3 separate regions of the Homo sapiens genome follow, and regions 1 and 2 are each linked to region 3. Evidence: fine-mapped expression QTL. A gene starts in region 3. Each other region holds a variant in brackets. All regions are shown on one strand. Distances are between the middles of the regions. Region 1 overlaps PPM1F (protein phosphatase, Mg2+/Mn2+ dependent 1F). Region 2 overlaps PPM1F (protein phosphatase, Mg2+/Mn2+ dependent 1F). Region 3 holds the start of PPM1F (protein phosphatase, Mg2+/Mn2+ dependent 1F).

What was found. PIP is the estimated chance that this variant, and not a neighbour inherited with it, causes the effect. A credible set is the group of variants that fine-mapping cannot tell apart.
Region 1: its variant is the best candidate, but not a certain one, in a credible set for the expression of PPM1F in whole blood (INTERVAL, PIP 0.89).
Region 2: its variant is the best candidate, but not a certain one, in a credible set for the expression of PPM1F in tibial artery (GTEx, PIP 0.89).

The regions. Positions count from the first base shown.
Region 1 is chr22:21,923,774-21,931,946 of GRCh38, forward strand. PPM1F (protein phosphatase, Mg2+/Mn2+ dependent 1F) reads right to left here. Exons shown (of 8, transcript NM_014634.4): 6 at 7,375-7,518; 7 at 1,796-1,889. Among named protein-coding and RNA genes, the nearest start is that of PPM1F-AS1, 10 kb to the right of the region's middle. The variant T/C (reference allele first, on the strand shown) is at 3,492.
Region 2 is chr22:21,912,141-21,920,313 of GRCh38, forward strand. It overlaps PPM1F (protein phosphatase, Mg2+/Mn2+ dependent 1F), which reads right to left. Exons shown (of 8, transcript NM_014634.4): 8 at 7,285-8,173. Among named protein-coding and RNA genes, the nearest start is that of PPM1F-AS1, 22 kb to the right of the region's middle. RefSeq lists enhancers at 4,777-5,587, 7,763-8,173. The variant T/C (reference allele first, on the strand shown) is at 4,341.
Region 3 is chr22:21,949,276-21,957,448 of GRCh38, forward strand. It overlaps PPM1F (protein phosphatase, Mg2+/Mn2+ dependent 1F), which reads right to left and starts at 3,573. Exons shown (of 8, transcript NM_014634.4): 1 at 3,517-3,573. TOP3B (DNA topoisomerase III beta) reads right to left here. Exons shown (of 18, transcript NM_001282112.2): 18 at 7,750-8,173. The coding sequence ends at 7,839. RefSeq lists enhancers at 2,726-2,795, 2,842-3,362 and a silencer at 3,356-3,765.

The DNA of each region.
Region 1 (8,173 bases), 26 kb before region 3:
TTCAAGCGATTCCCCTGCCTCAGCCTCCCGAGTAGCTGGGATTACAGGCTCGCGCCACCATGCCCAGCTAATTGTTTTTTTTTTTTTTTGTATTTTAGTAGAGATGGGGTTTCACCATGTTGGCCAAGATGGTCTCGATCTCTTGACCTTGTGATCTGCCCACCTCAGCCTCCCAAAGTGCTGGGATTACAGGCATGAGCCACCACACCAGGCCGAGCTCCCTCTTTCTCTGCCCTAGCCGTCCCATCCTGGCCTCACTTCCTGGAGTGTCCAGAGACACAAGGAAAGACACAGCCTGAGGATGGGCTGTCAAGAAGGTGCCACATCTGCCAAAAAGGACAGAATGTTTCAGAGGGGTAGGTGCCAAATCCCTGGCAATCAGCTGGGGAGGGAGAGATTTTCTAAGTACCAGGAAGGAGGTGTGGTCACAGTGCCCACAGCCTGAGACCCGGCACTGACCGCATGCTGAGACAATGAGATGCAGGCTGGACCCACTTTTTTTTTTTTTTTTGAGATGGAGTTTCGCTCTTGTCGCCCAGGCTGCAGTGCAATGGTGCAATCTTGGCTCACCGCAACCTCCACCTCCAGGGTTCAGGTGATCCTGCTGCCTCAGCATCCCAAGTAGCTGCGATTACAGGCAGGCACCACCACGCCCGGCTAATGTTTTTTGTATTTTTAGTAGAGATGGGGTTTCACCATGTTGGTCAGGCTGGTCTCGAACTCCTGACCTCAGGTGATCCACCCGCCTTGGCCTCCCAAAGTGCTGGGATTACAGGCGTGAGCCACCGCGCCCAGCTACTTTTTTTTTTTTTTTTGAGACACAGTCTGGCTCTGTTGCCCAGGCTGGAGTGCAGTGGCACGATCTCCGCTTACTGTAACCTCCGCCTCTGGGTTCAAGCACTTCTCCTCCCTCAGCCTCCCAAGTAACTGAGATTACAGGCGCGTGCCACCACACCTGGCTAACTTTGTATTTTTTGTAGAGAAGGGGTTTCACCATGTTGGCCAGGCTGGTCTCGAACTCCCGATCTCAGGTGATCCGCCCACCTTGGCCTCCCAAAGTGCTGGGATTACAGGCGTGAGCCAGCATGCCCAGCCAGACCCATTACTTTTTAAAATTTTTATTTATTTTTATTATTATTTTTTGAGACAGAGTTTTCCTCGTTATCCAGGCTGGAGTGGAGTGGCGCGATCTCAGCTCACTGCAACCTCCGCCTTCTGGGTTCAAGTGATTCTCCTGCCTCAGCCTTCTGAATAGCTGGAATTACAGGGGCTCACTACCATGCCTGGCTAATTTTTTGTATTTTTTTTTTAGTAGACATGGGGTTTCATCAGGCTGGTCTCGAACTCCCGACCTCAGGTGATCCACCCACCTCGGCCTCCCAAAGTGCTGGGATTACAGGCGTGAGCCACCGCGCCCAGCGAACCCACTTTTTTCCCAAAAGAGAAAAAAGGATTGTCAGCATGAACGCGGGAGGAGGATAAACCTCATTTCCGGAATATTGGAAGCTCTACTTCCAGCCCATAGGGTGGTGAGCCACAGGTTTCTATGAGATTTGTAGGAGCTGTTTTAGGTGAGATAATAACATACAGTGTAACTTACACTCAGACACTGGTGCTGCAGTCTCTGAATCTGCCCTGTTCCCTTCACACTACGAGGGTATCACCCCAGTGCATGACAAATCCCCCTCGGCCCATCACACTGCCTCCCTGAACCCCTGGTGAGCCGCGGGCCACACTCGAGGCCTGGGCTTCCGAGAGACCTTCTCCCACTTGGGTCGGCCTCTTTGGCTCTCACCGATGGCTCTGGAGACGGCCAGGGTCCCGTTGACTCTCCAGCAGTCCATGTGAGACACAAAGCCACCCAATGCTTCAATGCGCGCCTTCTCATCCTGCAGAAACACAGCCAGAGTTGGGGGCAGGGCCGGGGGGATGGGGCGTGAAGCCCCCTGCTGCTACCTGAGCAGAGGCACAGCTGCTTCTAAGACAGCAGCATTCAAAGCCGCAGCACTGGAACAAAGCCAGGAGGCTCAGAGATGCACCCAAACGAGGCTCATCAAAAACAGTGAGAAATTATACACAACCCACAAGTCCTTTAGTTGCAGGAATGGTGAAATGAACGGACCACCTGAGGCCGCCTAGCGGTGCCTGCGCCCCTGGGCAGCATTCTGGGTCAGGGAGGCACTCACGAGGCTTGCGAGCCCGACACAGACAGCAGATCCTTCTGCTTCCCTGTCTCTAGCTCGGGGACACCGTCTCTGCCCTGAAAGCTGCTGGGCCAAGATGGAGCATGTGACGTGAGTGGTCACACAGCAGGGAAGCCTGAGCGAGGCCCTGACGGCAGCCTGTGCCCGCCCAGTTCTTTTTTTTTTTTTTTTTTGAGACAGAGTCTCGCTCTGTCACCTGGCTGGAGTGAAGTGGCACGATCTTGGCTCACTACAACCTCTGCCTCCTGGGTTCAAGTGATTCTCCTGCCTCAGCCTCCTGAGTAGCTGTGACTACAGGGGCGTGCCACCATGCCCAGCTAATTTTTTTGTGTTTTTAATGGAGACAGGGTTTCTCAAAGTTGGCCAGACTGGTCTCGATCTCCTGACCTCATGATCCACCCTCCTCGGCTTCCCAAAGTGCTGGGATTACAGGTGTGAGCCACCGCGCCTGGCCTAGTTCTTGTCCTCCTCTACCCAAGCTCAGCACAGGCACAGTCTCCACTCAGCTGGGGACCACAACACCCCAGGCCTGGGTTCCTCCAGGGACAGGACAGAGGCTTGGTCCACCCACAAGTCCTCTAGAAACCTCTTTGGTCCTATCAGCCTCTGCCCAAAGGAGAGGCTGCCCCGATGAGAGCCTGCTGACTGAAGCCTGCACAACAGCATCCCTGACAGAGTGACGGAGGCACCCTGGGAGTGAGGCACCTCCCAAGTCTACTGGGGGAAGAGGGCATCCCTTACCGGTTTATCAGGTAAACCTCTTGACCCCACGCAGCACCAGCCCTTCTAGTCCCCAGGCACAGCACCAGCTGGGCATGAGAACTCTGATGCCCCAGGTGATGGTGTCCCCTAGACAGATTGGGATATCAGCCAATTCCCTCCCCAGAGCAGACGGACATGCACTGCGGGAGGCCTGGGGGAGGCAGCCCTCTCCAGATGCCTGCACCAAGGACCAGGCCTCTTTATGTGGCTCCCCTGCAGAGGGCATTGTGGTGGGAATGACATGGGTTTGCAGGAGTCCCGGCCTTCCTGGGCACTGCAGCCATGAGCCTGTGTGGGAACTGGACCAGTGCCTGGTAGGCTGGGTGCTCCTGTCCCAGCTGAGGTGGAGAATCAAGCCATGAAGGGGGCAGGAACAGGGACCTCAAGGCTCTCTCTGGGTCTAAGATCTGCCACCTCCGGGGTCTGAGCAGGGCAAGGGAAAGGCAAGGAGGACCAGGAAGGAGGGAAGAGCAGGAGACAGCCAAGAAGAGGGCAGGAGAAAGGGCACGGGGAGAGGCAGGTGGA[T/C]GAACACAGAGTACGCACGAATGTTCACACATACATGTGCCCACACACACGCGTGAAGGCGCCTGCAGACGGCGAGGAGCTGCAGAGGAAGCAGCGCCTCCTCCCCTGTGCCTCAGAGGCGTTCCCTGGGGAGGGGCTGTGAGCGTGGGAGGCTCCAGGGAGAATGAGGAGCCTTTCTCTGCTTCTGTCTCCCACACACCCCAGCCCACTCCAGCCCCTCAATGTCCCAGAGGCAGGAATGTGGGCAGGTGATGGAGAATGAACGGCAATCTGCTTCCCATGCCCTCTGGAGGTGGCTCTCCCCCACAGGGGGCCATGCAGGCTAAGCTTAGAACCTTCCTACCTGAAGCCCCTCCCCACCACCAGGGATGGCTGTGGGACAGGGTGGAGCCAAAGGGCAGGAGGGCACAGGGGCTGTGCTGCTCCCCTGCAGCCTGTGATCCCCTCTCCTGCCATTCTGCACCCCCTGTGCTGGACAGGCTGCGCCGGCTCCCCGGGCTCGCCCCTCTAACCCTGGCCCTGAACCTGGGTCCTCCTCCCCTCCAGTGGCTCCCACCTCCGTCACACACTGGCCAGGCTCAGTCTGGTCCGGGACTAACATATCCCCAGGCTAAGGGGTCTTGTCCCATTCCCCCTGAGTCTCCTAGTCACTGATTCTTGATTCTGTTTTTTGTTTTGTTTTTTTTTTTTTTTTTTTTTTTTTTTTGGAGACAGGGTCTTGCTTTGTTGCCAAGGCTGGAGTGCAGTGTCATGAACATAGCTCACTGCAGCCTCGACCTCTAGGGCTCAAGCCATCTCCTGCCTTCGCCTCCCGACTGCCCAGCGCCCACCCCCTCAGCAGCTCTTCCCTCTGCTCCTCAAACCTCATCCTCTCCACCTGCCTGAAACAGCTTCCCAGGTCAAAGCTGGAGCCGGTGGCCTGTGGGTTCCTGTGAACAGCCATTTCCTGCTTCCTAGGAGTGCAGTGCTCCACACGGCCAGGCCGCAGCAGCGTCGCCTATGGCACTGCCATCCTCCTGGATGCCCAAGGCCCTCTGCGATGTCTCCACCTGCAGAGCCGGGACTCCTATCTCTCCCAGGCTGCCTGCCAGGCGTGCCAGCGTGACCTGTGACCTTGAGTGACTCTCACTGCCCTCCTGAACTCACTTTTGTGACCCAGCCCTCAACTTGTCCTCCAGTGGCCTGATCACTTCAGAAGCTTCTAGTGAGTCCTTACAGAGTTCCTCCCAGCCTGGGGCAGTCCAGCTTTTCCAGCTGAAGGAGCAGCAGGTGGGTGGTCTTCTCCCCTGCCCCGAGTCTTCTACCCACTGATTCTGGGGCTTGTTTTTGTTTTTTGAAGACAGGGTCTCACTCTGTTGCCAAGGCTGGAGTGCAGTGTCATGAACATAGCTCACTGCAGCCTCAACCTCTAGGGCTCAAGCCATCCTCCTGTCTCCTGAGGCTTGAGAGGTGGGAGGATCACTTGGGGCACACCTCCACACCTGGCCCTGATTCTGGCATAACCTGCCCTTTCCTCCTGGTCTCTCCCCTGGCCTGCAGGAATTGCAACTGCCTGAGATGCGGCTCCATTCCATTCATCTCTCTGCCTCATCCTGCCAGGTCCTTGCCCTCCTCCTGCTCCCCCATTAGACTTAGAGGCAGGAAGTGGGTCCTGTGTTATCTCACTGCCTCAACAAAGTATCTTGTGCAGAGTGGGCACTCAGTGTTTGGAGGCTGAACTGAGTGCAGAGGCAGGAGACTGTTCAGACAGCCGCAGAACAAGGCAGAGCACCACGCACTCCCCCCACGTACTCCTGGAAGCTGCTCTGGGCCGCTGCTGGACCCCCGTTGAAGCTCGCCAAGTTGAGGCCAGTTTCTTGCTCTTGTAACCGACATGATGCTTGTTTTTGTGGGAGAACCTTGGCCTGGATCTGTGATTAATTCTCTAGGGTGGAAGGCTGTGATCAGGATCACAGCAGGAGGGGCCAAGCCTACAGAGCATGGCGGCAGGAAAGGGGAGGTGGGGGGCACTGGATCTGAACTCCTTGGCCCATGCGGGCTGCAGCCAAGAACACAGACACCTGTGTGTGCTTCTCTTGTGCAAGCTCTGATCTCTGTGCTCCACATGCACTGGGACACTCAATCCTTACCCCAAACCTCCAGGGACCCCTGTGTGATGGACTTGGAAGCGGTGGAGCCGGGACCAGGCAAGGCCATCTGTCCATGCTCTGCCACGACGCCATACTGCAGGACTCAGGCAGTGTTTGAACAGAGCCCCCACTGGGCTTTAATGGGGTGCTGAATGCTGAGCCTGTAGGTGTGCAGGCAGCAGGTGGGAGTGGGCCCAGCACGAATCCTGACTTGGCCACATTTCATCTGACTGCATATCCTGGGGAGGAGAGCCCACTAGGGAGCAGGTGCCAAATTCCCCCACGGTGGTGGAGGCAGGGGAGTGGCAGAGACTATCTGTGACTTTGGCGGTGTGCTCTGGGCAAGTGACTGAGCCTCAGTTTTCTCCTCTGTACAATGGGGAGAGGACGTACAGGGGGCCCATACCAGACCGTGAGCCGCAGTGAAAGGCCAAGGAATGTAGCTGCCCCTGACTGTTACAATCATCAAGTCCTGGTGTCTCTATGTGCTTTCCAAACCAGAAGCCACAAAAAGACTACTCAACTACAGAAAAACACAAAGCCTCCATGTGGCAAAAGCCCATAAACAAAAATAAAAGATGCATGGAAAAACATTTGCAAATCATCACAGACAAGGAACCAACCTCCTTCACATATACAAGGAACCTATAAACTGATAAGAAAAACAGGCAAAGGAAAAAAACAGTGTTTGCAGGAAAGGCTGTGTAAATGATCTTCAGCTTTTGAAAACACGCTCAAACTCACTCTGTAACAGAAAAGCAAACTTAACAATTGCCCCAAGACAGGCTTCTTACCTGACAGGAAGAATCCTGCAGCCTGGTGAGACTGTGGGGAAATGGACCTTCTTGGGAATGTAGTGCCAGCCCAGGCTGGCATGGCCTGAGGTGGGAAGCTTGGCAAATCTACCCAGACTGTACGTGCATCAGTTCCAACCTAGCCATCCCACTTCTGGGGATGTGTCCTACAGATATAGGTACACTTGACTCTGAGCAATTAATGCTGCACAAAGTAGGTAGAGATGCATTGTTTTTAGCACCGAAAGACTGAAAAGATCTTCATGCTCACCCACAAGGGACTGCATGATGAATGCAATGTCCGCAGCCCCAAGAAAGGATGGGTGCTCCTATGTGCTGACGTAGAATTATCCACCATGTGCATGGTTAATCAAACATAGCTGGTGGAGAACAGCACGTGGGAAAAGTGGGGTTTGAGGGATAAACAGTCATTCCATGATATCTGAATGCTCGCAATCCAACCTCAGGAGACACATGGATGAGACAGTCTTCTGAGAAGAGGTCTGAGTGGGACTGTCATCCTCATGTCCAGGTGATGACCTGAGTGCCAGGGTCCCAGGCAGCCTCTAGTCAGTACAGCCCCAAGCCAGGTTCCCTCCAGCCTCGGGGCAGCATCACCTCCCTGAGGCCTTCCTCACCCACAGCCTGTGGCCTCCTTGTCCGTGTGTATGATGGGCTCTGGTCTGCACTGGGCTGCACTGACTGCACTGGGATGCCTGTCAGTGCAGAGGGCTCTGCTCTCCCCCGGAGCTCTGGGCTCCATATAGCTGTGACCCACAGAGCTCTCAGGAAGGGCTCACGTGGGACCCCCGGCCACTCAAATCAGGCAGGGAGCCCTCCCTCTTGAAAGGTGCCAGGATTACTACTACCTGAAGTTCCCAGGCTGGGTGGGGTTCCCCTATGGGCCCAGCATGATGGAGGCCAGGAATATCCTGGGCCTGGGCGCAGGGATCCCCTTACCTGCCGTTCTGGTCTGTGTGGCTCCATCAGCTTCACCACCTGTCCCTGCTGTACCAAAATGACCTGGGAATCCCCGAGCCAGGCGACGTGCAGGGTCGCTCCTGCAATGAGCGCACACACACCTGTGGTGCCGCTCTGCAGCCGCTGCAGGGAGAGAGGGCCCATGAGAGTTGAGAGGAGGTAGGGAAGGGCAGAGGATGACACGGGGCAGGATGAAGCTTCCGGGGGTGATGAATACTTCCGTTACTGTGGTGAGGAATCCACAGGTGTATATGTGTATAAGCCAAAACTTGCCAAATTGTGGACTTCAAATATGCACCACTTACTACCTGTCAATTGTATCTCAATAAAGATGTTTATTTATTTATTTATTTATTTATTTAGAGACAGAGTCTTGCTCTGTCATTCAGGCTGGGCTGCAGTGGCACAATCTCGGCTCAGTGCAACCTCCGCCTCCCGGGTTCAAGTGATTCTCCTGCCTCAGCCTCCCAAGTAGCTAAGATTACAGGCGTACAGCACCACGCCTGGCTAATTTTTTGTGTTTTTAGTAGAGACGGGGTTTTGCCATGTTTCTTTCCCAGGCTGGTCTTGAACTCCTGAGCTCAGGCAATCTGCCTGCCTTGGCCTCCCAAAGTGCTAGGATTACAGGCGTGAGTCACTGCGCCTGGCTATTTATTTATTTAGAGGCAAAATCTTGCTCTGTCACCCAGGCTGGAGTGCAGTGGCACAGTCTCAGCTCACTGCAACTTCCATCTCCTGGGCTCAAGTGATTCTCATGCCTCAGCCTCCCAAGTAGCTG
Region 2 (8,173 bases), 37 kb before region 3:
CCCAGCACTTTGGAGTCCAAGGTGAGAGGACTGCTTGAGCTCAGGAGTTTGAGGCCAGCCTGAGTAACAAATAAGACCTCATCATTACTTAAAAAGGAAAAGAAGAAGCCACCACAGTCAACACACTCACCAACTGCTCACCCTCTTGGGTAACCAAGGAAGTGCAAATTGAAATCACAACACGATGCTATTTTACATTCATTACATTGACAAAAATTTTACAAGTAGGATGGTCCCAAGTGGTGGTGAGGATGAGAAACGAGGTGGTGAGGACAAGAAACAACAGAAATGCTGTGAGCACTGACATTGGGTACAAGCCGATGCATGGCCTAGACAGGTGGGCATGAAGACTCAGTGCAGACTGGCCTTGTGGCTGCACACCTGTGTGGTCCCATGGGGCCTGCACCTGGTTTAATGTGATGCTGCTGCTGTACAGAAATCCCTGATATTTTATCAAGGAACTCTTTTTTTTTTTTTTTTTTTTTTGGAGACGGAGTCTTGCTCTGTCGCCCAGGCTGGAGTGCAGTGGCGTGATCTCGGCTCACTGCAACCTCTGCCTCCTGGGTTCAAGCAACTCTCCTGCCTCAGCCTCCTATGTAGCTGGGACTACAGGCGCACGCTGCCACGCCCGGCTAATTTTTTGTATTTTAGAAGAGACGGGGTTTCACCGTGTTGCCCAGGCTGGTTTTGAACTCCTCAGCTCAGGCAATCCGCCTTCCTCGGCCTCCCAAAGTGCTAGGATTATAGATGTGAGCCATCATGCCCAGTGAGCTCATATATATATATTGCTCATATATATATATATAGCTCATATATATATATTGCTCATATATATATAGCTCATATATATATATATATATAGCCCATATATATATATAGTGTGTGTGTGTGTGTGTGTGTGTGTGTGTGTTTTGAGATGGAGTCTTGCTCTGTTGCCCAGGATGGAGTGCAATGGCACGATCTTGGCTCCCTGCAATCTCCGCCTCCTGGGTTCAAGCAATTCTCTGCCTCAGCCTCCGGAGTAGCTGGAATTACAGGTGCCTGCCACCACGCCCAGCTATTTTTTTTTGTATTTTTAGTAGAGATGGGTTCATCATCTTGGCCAGGCTGGTCTTGAACTCCTGACCCGGTGATCTACCCGCCTTGGCCTCCCAAAGTGCTTGGATTACAGGCATGAGCCATTGTGCCCAGATGAGCTCATATTTTAATTTGTAAATTAATTTTAACTATTTTGTTTTATTTTATTTTATTTGAGACAGAGTCTCATTCTGTCACCCAGGCTGGAGTGCAGTGGCGTGATCTTGGCTCACTGCAGCCTCCATCTCCTGGGTTCAAGCAATTCTCCTGCCTCAGCCTCCCGAGTAGCTGGGATTACAGGCACGTGCCCACTACCTCGCCTGGCTAGTTTTTGCATTTTTAGTAGAGACGGGGTCTTGCCATGTTGGCCAGGCTAGTCGCAAACTCCTGACCTCGTGATCTGCCCACCTCGGCCTCCCAAAGTGCTGGGATTACAGGCGTGAGCCACTGCGCCCAGCCCTAAACATTGGGCCAATTGTGGTGGCTCATGCCTGCAATCCCAGCACTTTGGGAGGCCTGGGCAGGCAGATCATGAGGTCAGGAGTTCAAGACCAGCCTGGCCAACATAGTGAAACCCCGTCTCTACTAAAAATACAAAAAATTATCAGGGTGTGGTGGCGGGCGCCTGTAATCCCAGCTACTCGGGAGGCTGAAGCAGGAGAATCGCTTGAACCTGGGAGACGTAGCTGAGATGGCGCCATTGCACTCTAGCCTGGGTGAGACAGCAAGACTATGTCTCAAAATAAATAAATAAATAAATTTAAAAAATGTTTAGGTCAGGTGCAGTGGCTCTCATGCCTGTAATCCCAACACTTTGGGAGGCTGAGGCAGGCGGATCACTTGAGGCCAGGAGTTCAAGACTACCTTGGGCAACATGGTGAAACCTCATCTCTACAAAAAAGTAAAAAAATTAGCCATGCATAGTGGTGTGCACCTGTAGTCCCAGTTACTTGGGTGGCTTAGGTGGGAGGCCAGATTGAACCCAGGAGGTCGAGGCTCCAGCGAGCCAACTGGACTCCAACCTGGGCAAGAGAGTGAGATCCCACTTGTAAAACAAAAAACAAACAAAAGACCAGGTGCAGTGGCTCATGCCTATAATCCCAGCACTTTGGGAGGCTGAGGCAGATGGATCACTTGAGGTCAGGAGTTTGAGACCAGCCTGGCCAACATGGTAAAATGCCGTCTCTACTAAAAACACAAAAATTAGTGGGGCATGGTGGCAGGCGCCTGTAATCCCAGCTACTTGGGAGGCTGAGGCAAGAGGATCTCTTGAATCCAGGAGGCAGAGGTTGCAGTAAACTGAGAACGTGCCATTGCACTCCAGCCTAGGAGACAGAGTGAGACACCATCTCGAAAAAACAAACAAACAAAAAAACGAACAACAAAAAAAAGGAAAAATTAGAATAAAAATGTAAAATTTAATTAAATTTTAATGCAATTAATTTAATTTTAATTTACAAATTGCATAGCCTGCTCTGCCCAGCATTTTCACTTCTTGGTGTATACCCTAGAGAAACTCCTGTGCATGGAAACCAGGAGACCCGACAAGAATGTTTATGGCAGCTCTGTTTCTGCAAAGATCCAGAAACCCACACAGCATGGATGAATTCGAGAAACATATGCTAAGTGACACAAACATGAAGTATAAGAAAGCAGACAGTAAAATGTCATTTTCAGAAAGTTAAAAGATAAGCAAAACTATACAGCAGTGTGTAGGGATATAGACATAGTGGTAAATCTATGAGGATGATTCTAACATTTAGGATACTGGTTAGAGGGTGAGTGGTGGGGGCGGCCGAGGGTGAAGTCTAGAAGGATCTTCTTATTATGGGCAAAGTTGTTTTGATGTTGGCTGGTGGGTCTGTTTCACTGTTAGGCTTTGGAGCTGATCTGGACATCAATTCTCAAGGTGTTGATGTCAAAGGCTTTGTGTTTTAAAAATGGAAGAAAGCCAGGCGTGGTGGCTCACGCCTGTAATCCCAGCACGTTTGGAGGCCGAGGTGGGCAGACTGCCTGAGCTCAGGAGTGAGTTTGAGACCAGCTTAAGCAACATGGTGAAACCCCATCTCTACTAAAGTACAAAAAATTAGCCAGGCATGGTGCTCCACGCCTGTAGTCCCAGCTACTTGGGAGGCTGAGGCGAGAGAATCGCTTGAACCTCGGAGGCAGAGGTTGCAGTGAGCTGAGACCGCGCCACTGCACTCCAGCCTGGGTGACAGAGCGAGACTCTCTCTCTCAAAAAAAAAAAAAAAGAAAAAAAAAAGGAAGAAGATTTTTGTCTTCCATTTACTGAAATAAAACAGCACCTGATGAACTGCTCATATAGGATTGTCAGGGCTTGATATCTGTGTCCTTATAGACACATACGGTGTAAGAAACTTCCACTATTTTTTTCTAAATGTCTGCCTACAAACTTTTCTTGGTGCAAAAATCTTTCACTTACTGAAAGAAAACAGACCATGATAAGCTGTTCAGAAAAGTCTGCTACATTGTTGGGATCAGGCATTGAGATGGCAGGGAGGGAGTGGGCCCCAGAGGCAGGCCTTTGAGCCTCCTGGGGCTGGGCAGTGAGTGAGGAAGAGGTCCCCTGACTATGGCCACAGTGACTGCCTAGGACAGTGGTCCAAGGAGAGGCCTGCCTGTGATGGGGCTTTGGTGCCACCATGGCTCCCTGTGCTGCTCCTGGAGCTAACACATCTGGCCAGGACCCTCTATGGGGGTAGGACAAATCCTCAGGGCTGGCTCTCGAGGGCTTGTGCCCACTTCTTGGCTGTGGGAGGCCCAGATGTCCAGAACACCGATGTCCAAGTCCCAGGAAGCAGATCCAAGACAGCTTTGTGTATGGAGCCCCCCAGCTGAGGTCCTGTCCTCAACTGGTTCAGAGCCTGGCTCCACCCAAGACCAGCCACCTGTTCTCAAGACCAGGTGAGAACAGGAGGGATCTGCAGGACCACAACGCAGCTGGGATCCAGGGACCTTCTGAGGGAAATCTGGGGCAGGCCAGTCATCAGCCCTCCCAGCCAGGATTCTTGCCTCTGTTTCCCTGGCTCTGCCTCACGTCACCTCTTGCCTGGGGGACCTTGGTTTTGGGCTCCCTTCCACCAGCTGAAGCCTCCATTTGGTGGGTGTGAGGCCCAGTCCTAACCCCCCAGCTCCCCACCCCTTCCCCAGGCAGACTCTGGCCTCAGCTGTCTGTGCTAGACTTAGCTCCAGGTTTGGCCCCCTCCTGACTGAGGGGTTGGCTCACACCCCTTTCACCTCCA[T/C]CCCCACCCCCACTTGCCACACTGTGGCCTGCTCCCATGGGTGAACCCCCTGTAGGTGCCAGGCAGCTCCAGCCCGTCTGCCTGCCTGTGCACCCTCAGTCCCTTGGGCCTCCCCCCCCCCCACCCAGAGGTCCTGAGAGAGGGTGCTCTCCGGGATCAGCTCTGTGAAAGTGAGGGGCAGACAGAGAGCACTGAGCCACTATCTGGCTGTGAAGATGAGTTTCAGACACATAAGCCAGTTCACCAGAGAACAGTCAAGACAGCAGATACTTAGGAAGGAAATCCTGCTGGGAGCTTCAGAGGAGCAGGGGTGTGGGGAGGAGGACATGGATGCTTGAGTAGGTGTGGTGGGCGGCCCAGGGCCTGGTCCCAGCTCTTGCATCCGGGGCTAGTTCCCCTGCTTCCCTAAGGATGCCCCCTCTGTGACACAGTGGACACAGATAAAGCTGTCTTTTGGCTAGGCGCGGTTGCTCACGCCTGTAATCCCAGTACTTTGGGAGGCTGAGGCGGGTGGATCACAAGGTCAAGAAATCAAGACCATCCTGGCCAACATGGTGAAACCCTATCTCTACACAAAAATTAGCTGGGCGTGGTGGTGTGCACCCGTAGTCCCAGCTACTCAGAAGGCTAAGGCAGGGGAATCGCTTGAACCCAGGAGGTGGAGGTTGTAGTGAGCCAAGATCGCACCACTGCACTCCAGCCTGGAGACAGAACAAGACTTCTCTCAAAAAAAAAAAAAAAGCTGCTTTTCTGGCGCTGGTCCTGGAGAGTTGGAGGCTGCAGCCCTGGGCAGCAGGCACTGCCGGGAGCCGGGGGAGGGGACTGAGAGCTCTCTCAGGTGGCTTGGGAAGGACCAGGAGAAAATGCACAGACAAGGCTACAGACAGGAGAGAGGAGGCCTGCAGGCAAAGTGGGAGTGGGGAAGGCACCGGGCTCAGGCAGCCCTAGGACAGCTGCTCCCATGCGCCCACAAGCCTGAGGGCCTCCCCCACATTCTACGGAGAAGTTCAGGGCAGCACTTTTGGCCGTGGCTGGGCAGTGTCTGCGGGGAGGCATTTCTGATGTTTGTGTGCCCTTGAAGCCTGAGCTCAGCCAGGAGCACAAGGGCGAGTTTCCCGGCCCCTGCTGCCTTGCTTTCTCTTGATTGAGAAAGGAACCAAAGATCAAAAGGCAGTGAAGAATTGGGGACTCTGAGAAGGGTGACTTTCCAAGGCTTGGACCCCTTAGCAGCTTTGCGGCCTAGGGGCACTTGACCCCTGTGTGATAAGCCGAATCCTCTTTGTCTTAGGTGGGGAATTGGTAGCTGGCTCATCCCTTGCCCCAGCACCTGCAGCAGCGTGGCAAACACTTGGCCAACATGCGCTGAAGGACTGGTCGACAGAGTCCCACGACTGGCTGCTTCAATACTGACCCCCTGAGGGCACTGAGAAGGCTCTGAAGCCGTCTCCAAGAGCAGTTTCATGTGTGCTAGGAGCTGCAGCCACATGGGACTGGGCCTGTGCGTGCTATCCTGGGGCTTCAGGGGGAACCAGCCCTCCAGCCTGCTAAGCGACCAGCAGCAACGCTCGGGCCAAGGCCCTGCATTTTGCTGCTGGCCGTCCTTGGGTGGGTGAGGCTACAGAGGTCTGGACTGGAGGTTGTGGTTGGGGGCCACAGGTCTAGAGCAAAGGGAGGCAGGTGGGCGGGCCTTGTGGGGGGTTCCCTAAAATCCATCAGGTGTGGTGGTCCTGAGGTGAGTTTCTGATATCTGTCCAAGCAGCCATCAGGGGCCAGTCCCTTCCACCAGGAACAGTGAGGCTTGCCCACCACCGAAGCGCTGCTCCCCACCCCCTCAGCCTCGCTCCCCCACCTAGTGCAGCCACCACTGCCATTCCTAGTTCTCTACCAGGACCCCAGGGCTTAGCACTGCCCACCCCTGCTGCTGGTGGATCTCTCCAGGTCTTCTGTTAAGGCATTTTTATCTTTTTTTTCCCTTAAAATTCCCATGACAGATTACATAAAAGCATTTTTAAAGCATGTTCACCGTACTAAAAAAAATTAGGATTTAGAAGAAAACCTAAAGGGGGGAGGAAAAAACCCCCTATAACCCTGCCCCTCAGGGAGCACCAGCAGTGAACCTGCAGTGGATTCACTTCTGGGCGGCAGCCGAGCTCCCATGTGGGACAAGTGCCATGCAGGCTTCGAGGATGGCGGAGCGGGGTGGCGGGAGCAGGGGGCAGAAGAAAGGCTCAGTGCTTTGTTCTTTTTTTGAGACAAGGTCTTGCTCTGTCACCCAGGATGGAGTGCAGTGGCGCAATCCTAGCTCACTGCAGCCTCAAGCTCCTCAAACTTAAGCGATCCTCCTGCCTCAGCCTCCTAAGTAGCTGGGACTACAGGCTTGTGCCATCATACTGGGGCTAATTTTTTGATTATCTGTAGAGATGGGGGTCTCCCTATGTTGCCCAGGCTGGTCTCAAACTCCTGAGCGCAAGAGATCCTCCCACCTCAGCCTCCCAAAGTGCTGGGATTACAGGTGTGCGCCACCACACCTGGCCTCAGGAGGTGCCAGGAGGGTATAAATGGTGGGCCTCAAGAGCGTCATGTCAGAGGGTCTCCATCCTCAGGATGGAACCTCCTGGGGCACATCAGGCTCCTGGATAAAATGAGGGGTCCTCAATGCTCCTGTGGCTCCCCAATGTCATGTGAGGTCCCAGGGGCTTAATCCCTTTCCTGTCACCTTCCTGCTGCTGGTGGGGGTGGGCTCAGAGCCCCTCAGGGAGGAAAATCAGGTTGCTGGCTAGACCAGGAGGGTGTAGGCCACCAGGGCTCTCTCCAGAATTTGTCTGCTCGCTTCGCAAGATTTGCAGATGGTCCCCAATATTAAAGCAGCTTCCAAACACATCTGGACATCAAAGGGGACAAGATGCTCAGAAGTCAGGAAGAAGGCAGGACTCGGGCGACAGAGTTCAGAACTTGTGGTTTATTGACACTTCTGCATGGTGGGTCCTTGGGAGACTGCCTTTCTGGCATCTTGGGACTTGTCCCTAAGAATAGGGAAGACAGTCATCCTGTCCTGGAGCAAAGCTCCCCCTTGCACAGGAACACAACTCCCATGCAGGAGAAGCCCACCGAGACGAACGCAGATAAACCCTTCGCAAGGCCTGCACTGCACCGGAATGGCAGAGCTCCGTGCATTTGGCAAAGCTATGGAGCCTTGGCAGAATGCACAGGACTCTGGGGGCTGCCCCCCTTGAGCTACAGAGGCAGAATCGAACCAAAAACACTGCTTCCTTTAACACAGCCCAACTGGCTTACATTTAGCTTGGGACGAGGCTAGGCCTAAGAAGGGCCAGAGCTGTCCTCCCAGCCCTGGGAACACGGCTGAGACGGCCCGGTGCCCACGCTGGGCTCACCATAGGAGAGGAGAGGAGAGGGAGGGGGCCCCATACTGGCCCTGCCGTCTGCACCCCGTCCCTTTCCCCACTAAACACACCCATTTCCTATCCTGGGTTCTGAGGCTGGGACTGCCTCTGGGATTCTGAGGGACTGCCCTCCACCCCTGCAGGCCTGGGCTCAGAGTCAGCCACACCTGTAAGGCAGGCCCTGCTTCCCCAGCTTTTGTATTCCATATACGGTGCTGGCATGTGGAGCTCCATTCTTCTCCAGCCCACTTAATTTTAAGAATAGACACTAATAAGACTTAACCACCCCAACCTGCTGGCAGCAGGAGGGCCCCTGTGTGCTGGCAGCATCTCCCCAGGACACGCCGGCTCACCTGCACCCACAGCGTTCTAGGAGGTCGCGGCCTCTGCAGACTCAGTGCAACCCCTGGGCCTTACAAAAGGGACACTCAG
Region 3 (8,173 bases):
CACCCTTGTTTCTGCATCACCAACCTAAGGCAAGGGGTGAGGAGAGAAACCAGGACACAGCTTTCTCTCCCTGGAGCCCAGATGTCGAAAGGGACAGGAATCATTTCCTTCCTTTTCCCAATAAGCTCCTGAATCTGACGTACACCATGGCACACCCGGCAGGAAGGAGAAATTCCTCACCAAGGGAAACCAGAGGCAGCCCTGGGAGTGCCTGGAGGGGCAGGGGACAGTGCTGTGGTTCTTTGAGGGATCAACTGGAAGAGACAGCATCAGGAATGGCATGGAGGCCAGCGGCAAGCCGCAGGGAGTAGGGAGAGCTGGGAGAGCACCAGAGGCAGCGGAGCCTGGTGCTGGGCTTTCCTGAGCAGGGCACACCAGTGAAAAACTCCGAATAAGAGGGACGTGTGCATGAGCCTGTGCAAATCACCAAGAGCCCGGGGTGGGCATGGGAGGGACATTGGACTCCTGCATCCCAGCACCGCCTGCCTGGACCAGTCTGACCAAATGCGACTGGCAGCTGGTTCCTCCTGGATCAGGGCCCCACTGCACACCAAATGGGTGCTCACCCTCCTAGAACCTATTTAAGGTCCCACATAGGTGAGAAATGGCAAAGCAAACTCATCGGGGGGCAGCTGCAGGGGTGTGGCTGACGGTGCTGCCAGCTGCCATCCGCCCCTGCTCTGAGCACTCTTCCTGGGATGGCTTTTAGCCTCCCAACAACCTCTTGTGGTTATCCCCACTTCACAGGGCAGGCTGTAGCAGAAGAGCTAAGGAACTTGCCCAAAGTCCCAGGGTGGGGTTCATGCTGGGGAACCTGGGCCTTAACTGTGATGACACCTGGGAAGTCATTCTGACTCCTTCTATCCCTGACCTGTCCCTCATTGGCCACCAGCTCTGGGCTTTGGCTCTCTCATGGCTCCTCCTTCCATTTCTGTGTACCCCCCACCCTAGGGCAGCCCCTCCCCTCCTTGTTTTGTGGTGCCCTCCTTCCATTTTGCCTCCCGAGATCTCTCAGATCCTTTGAGGCTTTGCTGAAATCTCCCCATCTTTGGATCCAGCATGCTCTCTTTCATGTCTCTATGGCACTTTTGCTCACATCTGACTTGTAAAAAGTTTTTTTTTTTTTAATTTAAAATATTTATTTTCCTCTAGTGCATTAGTTTTGACTCCTAAGCTTAACGAATGCAGGGTTTAACAACTGCAGTTTTTTAGGGGACATAGAAAAAATACTTGTTGAGTCTTGCTTAACTGCAGAACCAAGGTAATGAAAAAAACCCAGCAATCCTTAGAAAAGGGAACTGCACCACTATAGTGTAACAAAAGCATCATTCATGTTAACTGTTTTTTTTTGTTTTTGTTTTTTTTGAGACAGAGTCTTGCTCTGTCACCCAGGCCGGAGTGCAGTGGCGCAATCTTGGCTCACGGCAACCTCCGCCTCTCAGGTTCAAGTGATTCTCCTGCCTAAGCCTCCCTAGTAGCTGGGATTACAGGCACCCACAACCACGCCTGGCTAATTTTTTTGTATTTTTAGTAGAGATGGGGTTTCACCATGTTGGCCAGGCTGGTCTCGAACTCCTGACCTCAGGTGATCTGCCCGCCTCAGCCTCCCAAAGTGCTGTGATTACAGGTATGAGACACCACGCCTGGCCAACCTTTTTCTACCAAAAGAGATTCTTATTTCTTTATTCATAACTACTAATACTAATAATAGTTAGATGTAAATCCTAGATTTTTTTTCTACATATATAAATTTTTTTTATTGTTGTAAAATATACACACTATGTATCCTTTTAACCATTTCTAAGCGTACAGTTCCATGGCATTAAGCATAGTCACATTGCTGTGCAATGACCATTTCTTTCTACAGGCCTGACTTTCTTGATAGACTGTAAGCTCCCTGTAGTCAGGGAGCCCACGATGGCCCTTTGTGTACAGCAGGTGGTAAGTGTGATGGCAGAGGGAAGAGTGACTGGCGGGTGGCATGGGCTGAGGAAGCTACACCACTCTGAAGGGTGCAGTGGGCAGCAGCGCCAGGTCTTAAAAGACTCGGTTGGCTTCAGGTCAGATGGTATCCTTTTTTTTTTTTTTTTTTTTTTTGAGAGGGAGTTTCGCTCTTGTTGCCCAGGCTGGAGTGCAATGGTGGGATCTCAGCTCACTGCAACCTTCGCCTCCCAGGTTCAAGCAATTCTCCTGCCTCAGCCTCCTGAGTAGCTAGGATTACAGGCACCTGCCACCACGCGCGGCTAATTTTTGTATTTTTAGTAGAGATGGGATTTTGCCATGCTGGTCTGGAACTCTTGACCTCAGGTGATATGCCTGCCTCGGCCTCCCAAAGTGCTGGGATTACAGGTATGAGCCACCGCGCCCGGCCTTCAGGGGGTATCTTAAAGGAATTCCACAAATGAACTTGTGTAGAGGTTCATGGCTTTCAGAAATGCATTCGTTTTGTTTACCTCTCACAACTACGCTGAGAAGTACATACTGTCAGGCTACACTGCAGATGAAGAAATAGGTTATAGGAGGGCAAGCACCCATTTAAGGTCTCACACAGGTGAAAGGGCAAAGCGAACTCAATCAAGGTCTCTGGATGCCCAATGCCTTTGGTATTTCCACCTCGCGTGCAGGAGGAAAAGAGCGAAATTTGACAACAGAAGAGACTGGAGATGGCCTCAGAGTGCTGGCCGGCCCCACTTTCTATCCCCCGTGGTGAGAGCTCAGCTGGGCCCAGAGAACTTGTCCCGGGGAATGCCACCACGACATGTGTGACTCTGTCCCGCAGGGTGGAAGGCTTCGAAGGAGCCCGCCACCATGCAGTGGGCCTCACTGTGTGTCAAGCGCTGTGCCGAAATCCCTGCAGCCGGAGCCAGTTCTTCCTGTTGTACAGACAGGTTCAGGGGCTTGCCTGACCGAACCCAGCGGCAATGTGCCCGGCCTCCGCGCCTGAGGCTCTGGCTCACAGACCTGTGGCTGAAGCAGCTGCAGCCCGAGCACTTGTGCAGCTGACGCTCGCTTCACGGACGCTTGGGAGGCCGCGGAGCCGGGGGCCATCAGGCAGACTGGGCCCCTGAAGGTGCAGGGACTGGGGGGATATGGGGCAACGTGCCGGCCCAGAGGCTCCTGGGGGGTGGGGAGAGGCCAAATCTCGGAAAATGGGGCGCGTCCCCCTCAGCACCCGATTCTGCCTCATAGCCCTCGGTCCCTACCAGGCCCTCGGCTCGGCCACACCCCCGCCTGCCCCCCAGTTCTGCCCCCTTGGCTCCCCAGCCCCCCAACTCCCAGCCTCGGGTTCCTCATGTCCGCAGCGGCCCCTCTTGCTCCTCGGCCCCCCGCACTGCACCCCCGCACCCTTTCGGTGCACCCATGTGAGCCTCGTCTCGGCCTCCTTGCCTCCCCAGCCCTCTGATTCCACCCCTCCGGTTCCTCGGTCCCATTTCACCCCTGTGCGCCTTGGGCGCTCGCCTGACCCTCGTCCCAGCCCCGTCAGCCCTCTAATCCCGTCCCCCCCGGCCTCCTCACCCCTGGTCTCCGCGGGCCTCAGCTGTCTCCTCGCGGCTCCGTGTCCCGCAAGCTGCTGCCGGCCGGCCCCGCCCACTTCCCGTCCCTGGCCGCCGCGGGCGCCGCGGGCGCCGCGCAGGCGCAGTCGGGCCTCCAGGCTGGCGGGGCCGGACCTCTGCTGCCCCCTGGCGGCTACGTGGACGGTGACTGCGGCCCTTTAGTGGTAGGCGAACTGCGGCTCCACCTGGGCTCCGGAGCCGCCCCAGTCACCAGCCTCTTGCTTCTCTTCTGCAGCTTTGGGTGGGCGGCTGGATGGGGAAAGCAATCCCTAGGTCACAGCGCCCAGAAATTAAGCAACTTCTGCCGTCAATAGCTGGTAAGTGACAGAGCAGGGATGCAAACCCAGACTGCCCAGGCAGGCTCATCCGTCCGGGAAGGAGGCACAGTCCCAGGCTCATTATGAGTTGTTTGTTTCCACAAACGTTGAGGCTTTTGTTATCTTTCCGTTCTGGAGGTCAGAAGTCCACTTAGCCTCAGTGGGCGAAGATCCAGGGATCGCCAGAATGCGTTCCTTTCTGAGGATTCTAGGGGAGAAACTGTTCCCCTGCCTTTTCCAGCTCCTAAGGGCTCCCTGCATACCTTGGCTCGTGGCCCCTTCCTACAGCCTCGAAGCCAGCAATGGCCAGTTGAGCCTTTCTCACACTGCCACCTCTGGTTCCCTCCTCTGCTTCCTTCTGCTACTTCTAAAGACCCTCCTGATGCCATTGGGCCCACCCAGATAGTCCAGCATCATCTCTCTAAATCAGTTGATTAGCAACCTTAATTCCCCTTTGCCCCTTATTATTATTATTATTTTTTTTTGACACGGAGTCTCACCCTGTCACCCAGGCTGTACTGCAGTGGCATGACCTCGACTCACTGCAACCTCTGCCTCCCTGGTTCAAGCGATTTTCCTGCCTCAGCCTCCCGAGTAGCTGGGACTGCAGGCACGCACCACCATGCCCGGCTAATTTTTTTTGTATTTTTAGTAGAGATGGGGTTTCACCATGTTGGTCAGGCTGGTCTCAAACTCCTGACCTCAAATGATCTGCCTGCCTCGGCCTCCCAAAGTGCTGGGATTACAGTACAGGCGTGAGCCACTATGCCGGGTCTGCCATGTAATCTAACACAGGCACAGGTATAGGACATGAACATCTCTGAAGGGCCATTTTTCTGCCAACACAGAGGCTCTTGAAAATATTCTTTTTCTCTCTTTTTAGAGACAAGCTCCTTCTCTGGTGCCCACACTGGAGTGCAGTGGCATGATCACAGCTCACTGCAGCCTCAAACTCCTGGGCTCAAGTGACCCTCCCCTCCTGCCTCAGCCTTCCTAGTGTCTGGGAACACAGGCAAGCACCACCACGCCCAGCTGATTAAAAAAAATTTGTAGAGACAGGGTCTCTATGTTGCCCAGGCTGGTCTTGAACTCTTGGGCTCAAGTGATCCTCCTGCCTCAGCCTTCCCAAGTGCTGGGATTATAGGTGTGAACCATTACACCTGGCCAAAATATTTTATTTTAAAGGCAGAAGAAAGAAACCTTTATGTCAAAGAAAATGTTTTAATATATGATATTAATATATTCACCTTTATACCAATGCCGTTGGAAAGTATAATTTTTTAAATGGAGGATGGGGCACCAGATCTTATGTGGCTCTGCCCACCTGACCTTCAGGTCCGCAGGCCTGTGTCCTTGCCAGGAATGAATGTCTCTGGGATGCTTCTCTAACAGGAGGAACCTGGAGTGAGACCAGGAACCTGGAGAACTAGCAGCTGGGTGACTGGAAAGGAAACCATCTGGGGTGGGGTTGGGTCTGCAAGGCAGGAGGTGTCTGGGCAGAGAAAGCAGGGCTGGGGCGGAGGGTCCTGCCTCATCCCATTCTCCTGCTCACTCTTTCCTAGATCCCTGTCAGGGCAGTAACCATGAGCAAGGCTTGAGGCTACTTCTTATAAACAGTGGCCCTGGGCACATTCCTTAGCTCACCTGAGCCTCAGTTTCTTGATGAGAAAAAATCGGGACAATAGCAACCAACCTATCTCAGAGGGCTGCTGTGAGACCCTGAGCCACTGTTTCTCAAACTGCCCCTGAGATCACCTACAACAGAATGGCTGTAGGGTGAAGTTTGAGAACCGCAGTACAGGTGAGGTGGTGCGTGGGGCAGGCCCTCCCACACTGTAAAGTGCAGTGTGGTGCGGTAAAAGCTGATATTCCCGCAGGCATCCTCAGAGTGGGCCCAATTAGACTCTTGAGCACTGATTCCATTCAAGGTCTGCGGCTTAGAGAGGATGGCAAAGTGAGGCACCACCAGGAGCTTGTCCCTATGGGCTCCAGGCCAAGGACGTGCCTGGAGATGACTCCTGCCTTGTGGCGCTGTCACTGCCTCACTGTCCACATTCCATCACGCCTCAGATCCTGGCTTCCACCCTGGTGAAAGGAATCTTTCAATATCACCCACCCAGCCACAGACGCTTCTCTGCTTCTCTGGCAAGGCTGCACCCCTGGCTAGGTGGGCAGGGCCAGGGGCTCCTTGAGACAGTCTGCAGCCACTGACCTCTCCAGCCTCCAGGGCAGAGGTACAGTCCCATGGAGCGTGGCTGATCTGAAGGCAGTTCTGGCCTAAAAGGGGTCTTGTCCCTTCCTTGTCCTCATTGCTCCCAAGGCCAGGTTGGCAGCAGTAGCAGCGGGGTTGGATGCTATTGGATGGGAGAAGGTGAATGGACTCGGAGTGCAGAATCAAGCTGCGGAAGCCAAGGGCCTTGAAGGAGGGTCACACACAAGGGACAACTGCAGAGGAAAATAAAGGAACACTTTGTGATTAGCCCTGCCTGTGGCTGAAAGCGCAGTGCAGAAGCATAGTAAGGAAGGACTGGGTGGTCTGGGTTTAAGACCTAGGAACCGTCTCTGCTCCTCCAAGCCTGAATGAGCCCTATAACCTAAGGGTCCTGGAGGTCTTGAAACCTTCTGCGGAGAAGGCTCCAGGTCCACTGGGCCCTGTGGGTGGAAGAGCAGAGTCACAGCCCCGCACTGGGGACCTAACAGGTGTGGCCTTGCTAGGGCCCCAGAATGGGACCAGAGTGGGTGGGAGGGGGCAGAAGCTCTGAGAGCACCCCCTCCTTCCTGAAGCCTGTGCTTCTGAGACACATCCCAGGACCCTCTATGTGGTTCCCCATGTCTCTGTATTTTCATTCAGCTTCGAGTAGCTCTCCAAACTGTGTTCCAGGGAACCCCCGTGTTAACCTGTGAGGGCCTCCAGGAAGGGGGTCCAGGGGGGGTATGCTTGGTGGGCTCTGGGTTTCCTTACAGGAGCTCTCATATAAGTCCTGGTGCAGCCTGGGAATCTACTACTGAGTTGGGGCGGGGGCGGGTCTGAGTCCGAAACATTCCTGACCTGCCCCTCAAAGAAAGGTCCCACTGAACAGTCTGGAAAGCTGTTTTGCTGAGCTCCCGTCATCACTCAATGAGGCACGGGCGGAGTGTGGAGGGAGTTTCCAACACACAGTGGATCCCGCACAGGTGTCTCTCCTCGGGTGGCTGGGGAGGGGAGCACAAGAAGGCACTGAGGTCAGAGGGCAGCTGCCACCAGCACCTGGCACCACACGGCAGTCTGGCCTACAGGGTATTTTCTAAACCTGGCATGTGAATGGGTTCCATGGGGCACCCAGCTGCCTCTAAGACCATAAGGGCTTGTTGTGAGAATGGGAATTGCAGCAGGTCCTGGGAAGCTGCCAGACGCACACGGGCACCATGTACAGGGCTTCTCAGAGATGGGAGCAGGGAGCAGGGGACGGAGAAGTGTGGGGTCAAGAGCGTGGCCCTGAGCAGGGGGCTGCAGCGAAGACCAAGGGGATTCATAAGCCAGATCCGGGGAGGGGGTCTCCCAGCCCCACCTGCTCCACTAGACTCCTCTCCTGCCGGAGCCACAGCTGTCAAGGCCGCCTTCCTTAAGGCATCAGGGCCACTGCTTGTGCACACAGCTACCATCAGCAGCACGGATTGAGATGGGGTGTGAGTGCAAACTGGGTCTATTCCCCAGGGCTTCAGGGTTGGGGCATCCCTGCCCGTACTGCCAGGGTGTAGGGATAGCAGGGAGCACTCTGGGCACGTGTATGCAGGCTGAAGGGAGACGTATTGGGTTTCGGAGAGGGAGAGAGGGCCCCACAGGTGCCCAGGGACACGGTAACGCTCTGACATCGCTGCACCAGCAAAGGGGCCCCAGCTCTGGATAAGATAAAATGCATTTTAATAGTTTGAAGTGCCATGAGGTGTCTGCATGGCACTGCAGCCTGGGTGAGGGAGGACAGGGTCATCATACAAAGTAGGCGGCCAGGGCTGACATCTTGTCCTTGGGCCGTCTGGGGTTGGGCTTCCCAGGGGGCCTCCTGGCCCGGCCCCGCCCTCGACCCTGCCTTCTCCCTGGTCCACCGCGGTGCATGGGGTGGCAGGAGGCCGCATGCTTCAGCTCCACCAGCTCCTGGAAGACGGGGTCACAAAAGACGCAGCCCATGTGCTGCGTCTCATCGCCCGGGAGTGGGGACTTGGCCTTGTTGAAGTCCACATCAAGCAAGGCGGCCTCACAGACACTGCAGGTGTCGGCGGACACCCGCACGCGGTGGGCGTTCTCGAAGCAGTGCGCTACCACGT